Linked DNA regions of Homo sapiens: regions 1 and 3 are each linked to region 2. Evidence: fine-mapped expression QTL. A gene starts in region 2. Each other region holds a variant in brackets. All regions are shown on one strand. Distances are between the middles of the regions. Region 1 has its middle 24 kb from the start of CRY1. Region 2 holds the start of TMEM263 (transmembrane protein 263). Region 3 has its middle 21 kb from the start of TMEM263-DT.

Region 1 (2,764 bases), 160 kb before region 2:
TGAAATAGTGTCTTATTTTCAGCCCTCAAGGAGAGGGAAGTGTGGAGGCAGATGGGGCTACTCAAGAGGATTTGAGGGGCTCTGAGCATAAGAAAAGCTGCTTTAGAAGCAATCTTGAAGGAAACCATGTTCGCCTGGCTACTCCACCACGCTGCCCAAACCCTTGGCAAACAAACCCTTGGCAAACACTGTTCAGGCACCTCAGGGGTTGAAATCTGAAAGTACCCAAAGGCAAATCTTCAGTACAGTTCTTGGCAGGGTCCTGGGCACTCCCATGCAAGGTGGCAGCAATGCGGGGTGGGGAGCCTTCTCCAAGCAGCTGCATAGACAATGTCGGTAGACATATGATACCAAGCAACAGAAGAAAGGTTTGAATCACACTTTGGGTGTCTTCTGGAAATAACTGTGATCACTGATGGTGCTGGGAGGCAGGTTGAGGTGGAACTACTAATTAGCAGAGCCTATCAACCTAGCAGACATCTGGGCTGTACATACAAAGAACTTAGCATTAATATGACATTTAGCAGACTTTCCTAAAGGGTAGATCTAATCTAAGTGTCCCTGAACTCACAAGAAAGTTCTCTATCCTTGATCACCAAATCCTATTTCTGGCCTAACTCTATATTCCTTGCTAATTTGAGCAATAAATCATGTCTGCTTATTATAGCTGGCCTTTTTTTATTTTATTTTTTATTTTTCTTGGTGTTGTGGTTATAGTTGCCCTTTTCTTCCTGCCTAAATGCCTGGACTTCCTTTCAATCACTGTTTCCTGGGAATGAGGGTTGTACTAAAGTTTGGCTTCAGCCACAATATTTGGCCAAAATGTGTTTAGGTATTGGCTTTGACCGTTGGAAGGCTGAGTAACAGAATGCCAACTTTAATGTCATTTCTGGGCTCCCTGAATGTGCATTTGATCAATGAGCAAGTGAATGCATAGTTACCATCAAATTTAATCAGCACAATAATACAATAAGACATGCTATTCAGAGTCATTATTAATATCTGAACGTGTACTTTCAAACATAGGTAAGTATTTTAGATGTAACTGAGAGTAAAAAGAAATTATTTGTGTGCTTTGGACTTTGAACTCCTATCACTCAGTTGAAGTATAAATGTATATTTTTAATTTGCCAGAGTAAAATGCTGGAATAGTTCATGATGATTATGAAAGTTCTCCATGTTATGAAAAAAAATTTCAAGAAATTTCTAACATGTAAATAGAGATAGCATTAACTAGAAAACTTTAGGCAGAATATAATATCCTTTTTGAATCAAAAAGCTTTATAAAAATTTAAAT[G/A]GCATTAGGCAGAATATAGAGATTAGATTATTTCATAATTCTAATTTTTATATAATTATTTGTTTTAGCCCTCTTAACATTAAATAAAATAATCTCCAAAGCTATATTTAGCTTTTAGTAATTTAATTCTGTTTAGGCCATGAATCTTCAGTTGTGTTTTCAGAAAGTAATTAGCATGCAGCCTAATGAAGCAGAATGACTGACTGTAAACAGGAAGATAAGAGGCCACTTTCATCATTTTTCTTCAGCGAAAGACAAACCTCAAGGCAGACAAGGAATTTTGGAATTGACTTGTCATGTACTTATACAAGATGTTCAAACAAGATGAAATAGCAGCTATTACATTTTTAAAAGGCTGCTCGAACAAAACAGAGCCTTTAATTCAGCACTTTGCAGATTAAAATGCCCATATAGCAGGGCTTGCTAACCACCAGAGACTTCCTGCAGAGAAAGTGGTCCCTACACCAAAATCTACTGAATAGCCAGAGCAATGGTCCTTAAGAGAGCAAGCATTTCTTATCGATAAAGATGCACCTATCATGCTTTGTCAGGGAAGATGCGAAAATTTGCATACTACAAAGGCCACGTTGAAGAAGGAAATACAGAGAACTGTATTACCTTGGAAGCCAATTAAAGTGGGTCCATTACCACATTTCTGGACCCAAGATTTAAGAACACACTTTTCTAAAGTGGAGGTGTGAGGCAGCAAGTACATGCAAACATCAGGAATTTTAAGAAATGGAATTGATGACAATGCTTCAGAAAGTAGAGTATATCTTCTTCAGATAGTACGCAGAGCTCTTATTTGTGGAATCTCCTCCAAAAATTGTATCCTCACCATTAGACATATCTTTAAGTCCAGGAGTCAAAAGTCTTCTGTGAGTTACTACCAGGAAGAAAGAAAAGCTAAATAACTCAGTGGTAATGCTGTCATCGGCTGTACCATAAGATGGTAAGGCTAGTTGGTAAGGCTAGCTGGGTCAGCTGGGATAACTGACTCCTTTCTCCATGTGGTTTCTCATCATGCAGCAGGCTAGGCTGGGCTTGGTCACAAGGCAGTAGTCACAGGGATTCAAAAGCAATGAGAGAGCAAGCCGACAATTCCCCTAAAATTGCTCCTATCAAGATTTCCTTGGACCTTAGATTGCTTTTGATACCTGTGACCACTCTGTAGATCTCAAAACCATCATCTCCCTGTGGCTCCTAGCTCTCTTTTAAATCTTTCTTCATTGTCTCTCTGTGCAGACACTTCTTGCTTTTCTGGCCCCAGGGTTCTGCCTCCAAGCCCTTTTCTCTTTTGCCAACACTCTTCCTGAGGGATGTCAGTCATTCCAACGACTATATGCTAAGGATGCCAAATCTGTATTTCCAGCTCAAATATCTCTCTTGAGATCCTGCATTATATATTTAAAGGCTTTCTGGGCATCCCCACTCGGAAGACCCACAGATAACTCTAACATAAGTACA
Region 2 (2,764 bases):
AAATACCGAATAACTGAAACAAAGGTAAAGATTTTCCTGTAGTTAAAAAAAAAAAAATCAAACCCATGCACACACAAAGAAATCTGTATATTTGTCCAATGTAGCAACCGTTATAATTTCTAACGATGCTTTCTATAAATGGACAAATTTTTACTGAACTTGGTTTCTGGTACATCTGTTCTAACAAAGACTAAAGAAATGAAAGTGGAAAAAGCAAAACAGGATGCATATGGGTTTATCAAAGGCTACTTCTCCCTTTCTTTTTAAAAAGTTAAGCATGGGCGCGAGCGCGCACACACATACACACACACACACACACACACACACACACACACACACACACACACGGGCGCGCGCGTTTACCTGTTGGTGTTGTATCGATATTCCTGGGGAACCCCTGAGGGCACTCACACCAGCAGAAGTTTCAAAGGCTAAACAATAGCATACAGCAAATAATCACATATAGCAAATATTTTCATTTGGAATTAGCACAGTGTTCACAAGGACGCAAAAATCAAATTAAGAACCCTTCCCTTTTCTCTAGGTGTTTCTAAACCCTTCCGGGTGGCCCCTTCTCTCCCTACTGATCCCTTTAGGCACTAGCAAATCTTTTTTTTTTCTTTAGCAGTGAGTGACGTGGCAGGAGGCAGAAAATGACCCTGGAGGCGCCGTGGCTAGCACTGAGCTTGGCACCTCCTCCCTCCGCTCCACGTTGTACACCCAGCACTCCCCCCACTCCCGAAGGGCTCCAGAATTTCTATGTAAGAAGGGTTTAGGACAGGCGATCTGATTGGAAGTGGGAGCTGGGGGGTCGGTCTTGAAGCTGCGTGTGCAGAGCAGGCAGTTTTTATTTAGACTGGGAGGCAGTGACGGCACGGATGGGTGCTCCAGCCCTCCCTGTCACCCCTGGGCGCGGCCAGCACCCTCTCCATTCCCACTTTTACTTTAGGTTAGGCGTGGAGATACAGCCTTCCTACCCAGGAAGAGCTATGGGGGTGTCCACTGGGAAAAAGTCTTGTGTGCCTGAACCCAAAAGGGAGGTTTAGCAACAGGTCAGGAGTTGGCAGGGCGAGGAAGCCCGGTACCCAAGCCCCTCCGCTGCATCCCTCTCCCAGGCTGCTGATGCCCCTCACCTTCCTCCTCCGCCCCCAACCCCGAACCCCCAGATGCTAAGAAGTCAGGCGGAGGCTTTCCAGGGGTGCGCAAGCTCCAATCGCGGCGGGGCAGTCAGCGACGTATAAGGAGGAGTAGCCCCAGAAGCGAACCTCCATCCGCCCCCAACTTCGTCCCGCCCCTCCCCCTTTCCCGCTGGGGCCTCGCCAAGGCCCCGCTGGGCAGCCAGGCCGGGCACTGGGAGGTGAGGGGCAGGGGCGCCGACGGCAGAGGGCGACGGAGGAGGGCAGGAAGCCGGGACTGCGCCCCTGCCCTCGCATCCCGACTCACTCACCGCCGGGGTCGCGGCCAGCGCTAGGGCTGGGGCCGGGCGGAGTGAGCGGGCCGGCGCAGAGGAGAGCTGAGGCGGCCTGGGCGGCAGCGGCGGCCGGCACAACCCCGGGCAGTCGCGGCTCCAGAGGCGTCCTCTCAGGATGTGGAGCTGGAAGACTGTGGCGGCGGTGGTGGAGGCGGAGGCCTCTGGCTGCGGACGTGGCGCCCGACGCGACCCGCCCCCTCCGCCGCCTCCTCAGCTCCCGCCTCCTCCCGCGGCTCCAGTTCCGACGCGCACGCGCGCTCGTGCAGCCCGGGCCCCTCCCGCGCCCACCGGGCACACGCCCACCCGTTCTCGCAGGGTCCGGCCCTCCCAGCAGTCCCCAGCCGGCTGTGTCCCAATTGCGCACGCGCGACGCTCCGAGGCCCGCTCCCGCCCCTTCGCCCCCTGGACGCCTCCGTGGGAACCCCCGGCCGGCCTGCGCGCCCCTCCTCCGGGGGTCTCCCCGCCTTCTTCCCGCCACCATCCAATCAAATCGGGCGAGGGGCGCGAAGCCCGGGAGACGCGTAGGCCGCGGCCCCCAGGCCCGGTGTTTTGACGTCGGCGGTGCCCGCGTTCCGCGCCGAGTAACGGTCTTCGGAATTCAGAGCCTTCGCCTTAGGGAAGGTGGGACGGTCGCCAGTTTCTCCAGCACTTTCTTCGTCCAGGGACGTCAACCTCCCTTGCATGCTGTCCTCAGGGACTGACAGCGGGGCCTGCTCAGAAGTTCTCGTCGGGACTCTCTACAGGCCTTTGTGATTAAGTGCTAGGGGTGAGGAGAGACGTGGCTTATTTATGTGTTTTTCAGTTTGTTATGATTTTTTTTTTTTTAATTTTACTTCTCCCTGCCCTAGAATTGAGCTCCTTGAGAGTAAAAACCCGCCTGGGTCGCCATCACCCTAGGCTTGGTGCAGGGCCTGCCAGGCGCTCGAATTTGTTGAAGAGGTGGGTGTTCAGTATCGAAAGAGCCGCGGATTGTACATTAGAAAGCCTGGCTTTGCGCCGCGTCCTTGCCACTTGCTGACCAGGCCCCTCCACGTGGTCCCCGCCGGGGCAGCAGCTCTCCTCACCCGTCCAAAGGCACGGGGAGGCGCGTGGCGGCCCCGCCAGAGCTGAGCCCCCTGGGATGTGAGGCCGTCTCGCTCTGAGCTTCAGAGCAGGGTTGCAGGAGACACCTCAGAAGGTCGTTTTGAGGACGGGAGGAGATGAACTGCTCAAAGCCTGCTTAACTAGATAAATGGTATCGATTAACTTTTCTTTGACTCCCTTTCCACACCTATAAAATGAAGATGACGGGAA
Region 3 (2,764 bases), 21 kb after region 2:
CAGGTGAGAAAACCTAACATCTCAGATTGCTTACTGTTCATAATGCAAACAAAATATATGTCTCAAGTCAGATTTTTAGGAGATTAACTTAAAATGAATAGGCAATTACATACATTAAATTTGTCATTAAAATGTTAATTAAAATCACAATTTCAATTATTTTTCACTGAAATAATTTTTTTTTTTTGAGACAGAGTGCTGCTCTGTCACCCAGGCTGACTGCAGTGGTGCAATCTCAGCCCACTGCAACCTCCGCCTCCCGGGTTCAAGTGATTCTCATGCCTCAGCCTTTTGAGTAGCTGGGACTAGAGGTGTATGCCACCATGCCTGGCTAATTTTTATATTTTTAGTAGAGATGGGGTTTCACCATGTTTGCCAGGCTGGTCTCGAACTCCTGACCTCAGGTGATCCACCTGCCTTGGCCTTCCAAAGTGCAGGGATTACAGGTGTGAGCCACCATGCCTGGCCTCACTGAAACAATTTAAGTGTACAAAGTAATGATATGTTTTCCTCTCACTTTTTTGATAGATGAAGGCACTATCACTGCTTGTCACTGAAGAGCACATACTGATTTGTTGCCATTAAGTAAACTTGACTGTTACATTAGATAATGTATCTAAAGGCAGAGTTGGCAACTTATTCCAATGTAGGACAACCATGATTTACATGTGTATTGACCTGGATTTTTATTTTAATGTTAGCTTCCATAAATAATAGGTTTTAGAGCTGTGTGACCCACTTAGCTAAAAATAAGACAAATTAGGTAGAACTTAAAAAAAGGAAAAGCTTTACTAATCAATGCTCAAGAATTAAAATGAGGGGGAGGATGGAAGGGGGGTAAGGAATGAAAATTTACCTACTGGGTACAATGTACACTGTTTGGGTGACTGGTATACTAAAAGTCCAGATTTCACCACTATAGAGTTCATCCATGTAACCAAAAACTACCGATACCCCTAAAGCTATTGAGATTTAAAAATAAATTTTTAAATAATTAAAATGAACACTGGCTAATGAGCTGAACACCAGACAGTTTTTACTGACAGTTTTTAAATGTATACTCCAAAATATAACCTCAAGAGGACCATGTTTGTTTATCCTATAAACAGAGAAATCATTTGTTTAAAGTATGGCACATGATTGTTTTCAAAAGTATGTTTATTTAGGGAAATGGTTATTATAGAAAAATAATTTGCCAATAAAGTTGTAGATTCTAATAATCTACATCATTTTAGATTTTTAAGTATGTGGTTTCATAAATTATATCAAAGAACTATTCAATATAATTAAAATATTCACCATAACTTTCCATAAAAAGCAAACAAAAATCATATTTGCATTTTTATCTGAATGTTCTAAATATATATCCAAGTTCAAGAGGCACATAGCTACTCTGAGAGGTGCAAGAATTGTTTTCATAAATGCCTTCTAAGAATACTAAAACCAGCATTTTAATATATGCATTCATGGGTACACACACACACACAC[ACG/G]CGCACACACTATACACAGGCATACCTTTTAAGATATCGCAGGTTCAGTTCCAGATCACCACAATAAAGCAAGTATCATAATAAAGCAAATCACACATTTTTTTGTTTTCCTGTCCATATAAAAGTTATGTTTATATACCGTACTATATAGTCTGTTATGTGCAATAGCATTATGTCTAAAAAACACAATGTACATACCTCAATTTAAAAATACTGCCAAAAAATGCTAACAATCACGTGAGGCTTCAGCAAGTCACAATATTTTGCTGGTGGAGTGTCAGGCCTCCATGTTGATGGCTACTGACTGACCAGGGTGGTGGTTGGTGAAGGTTGGGTGGCTATGGCTATTTCTTTTCTTTTTCTCTTTCTTTTTTTCTTTCTTTCTTTTTTTCTTTTTTTTCCTTCTTTCCTTCCTTCCTTCCTTCTTTCTTTTTCTTTCTTTTTTTTTTTTTCAGGGTCTCTCTCTGTTGCCCAGGCTTGAGTGCAGTGGCACAGTCATGGCTCACTGAAGCCTCAACCTTTCGGGCTCAAGCGATCCTCCTACTTCAGTGTTCCTGAGTAGCTGGGACTACAGGTGTGTGCTACCATGCCCAGTATTTTTTTTTTTTTTTTTTGCAATTTCTCAAAATGAGACAATAATGAAGTTTGCCACATCAGTTGACTCTTTCACAGAAGATTTCTCTGTAGTATGCAATGCTGTTTAATAGCGGCTTACCCACAGTATAACTTTCAAAATGGGAGTCAATCCTATCAAACCCTGCTGTTACTTTATCAACTAAGTTTATGTAATATTCTAAATTTTTTGTTGTCATTTCAGTAATGTTCATAGCATCTTCACCAGAGACAGACTTCATCTCAAGAAACCACTTTCTTTGCTCATCGATAAAAAGTATCTCCTCATCTGCTCAAGTTTTATAATGAGATTGCAGCAATTTGGTCATATTTTCAGTATCCACTTTTTATTCTAGTTATCTTGCCATTTCTACCACATCTGCAGTTACTTCCCCCACTGAAGTTTTGAACTCGAAGTCATCCATGAGAGTTGGAATCAACTCCTTCCTAATACCACTTATTGTTGATATTTTCACCTCCTCCCTTGACTCACAAATATTTTTAATGGCATCTAAATGTATAGATCCTTGCCAGAGGTTTTCCATTTACTTTGATCAGATCCATTGGAGAAATCACTGTCTATGGTAGCAATAGCCTTACAAAACATAATTCTTAAATAGTAAGACTTGAAAGTCAGAATTACTCCTTGATCCATGGACTAC

The links. PIP is the estimated chance that this variant, and not a neighbour inherited with it, causes the effect.
Region 1: its variant is fine-mapped to the expression of TMEM263 in whole blood (TOPMed, PIP 0.99).
Region 3: its variant is fine-mapped to the expression of TMEM263 in whole blood (INTERVAL, PIP above 0.99).

The regions. Positions count from the first base shown.
Region 1 is chr12:107,116,229-107,118,992 of GRCh38, reverse strand. No RefSeq gene overlaps it. Among named protein-coding and RNA genes, the nearest start is that of CRY1, 24 kb to the right of the region's middle. The variant G/A (reference allele first, on the strand shown) is at 1,298.
Region 2 is chr12:106,954,749-106,957,512 of GRCh38, reverse strand. It overlaps TMEM263 (transmembrane protein 263), which reads right to left and starts at 1,606. Exons shown (of 4, transcript NM_152261.4): 1 at 1,448-1,606; 2 at 364-431. It overlaps TMEM263-DT (TMEM263 divergent transcript), which reads left to right and starts at 2,018. Exons shown (of 1, transcript NR_185933.1): 1 at 2,018-2,764. RefSeq lists enhancers at 659-718, 1,648-1,942 and a silencer at 1,219-1,978.
Region 3 is chr12:106,933,593-106,936,356 of GRCh38, reverse strand. No RefSeq gene overlaps it. Among named protein-coding and RNA genes, the nearest start is that of TMEM263-DT, 21 kb to the left of the region's middle. The variant ACG/G (reference allele first, on the strand shown) is at 1,489.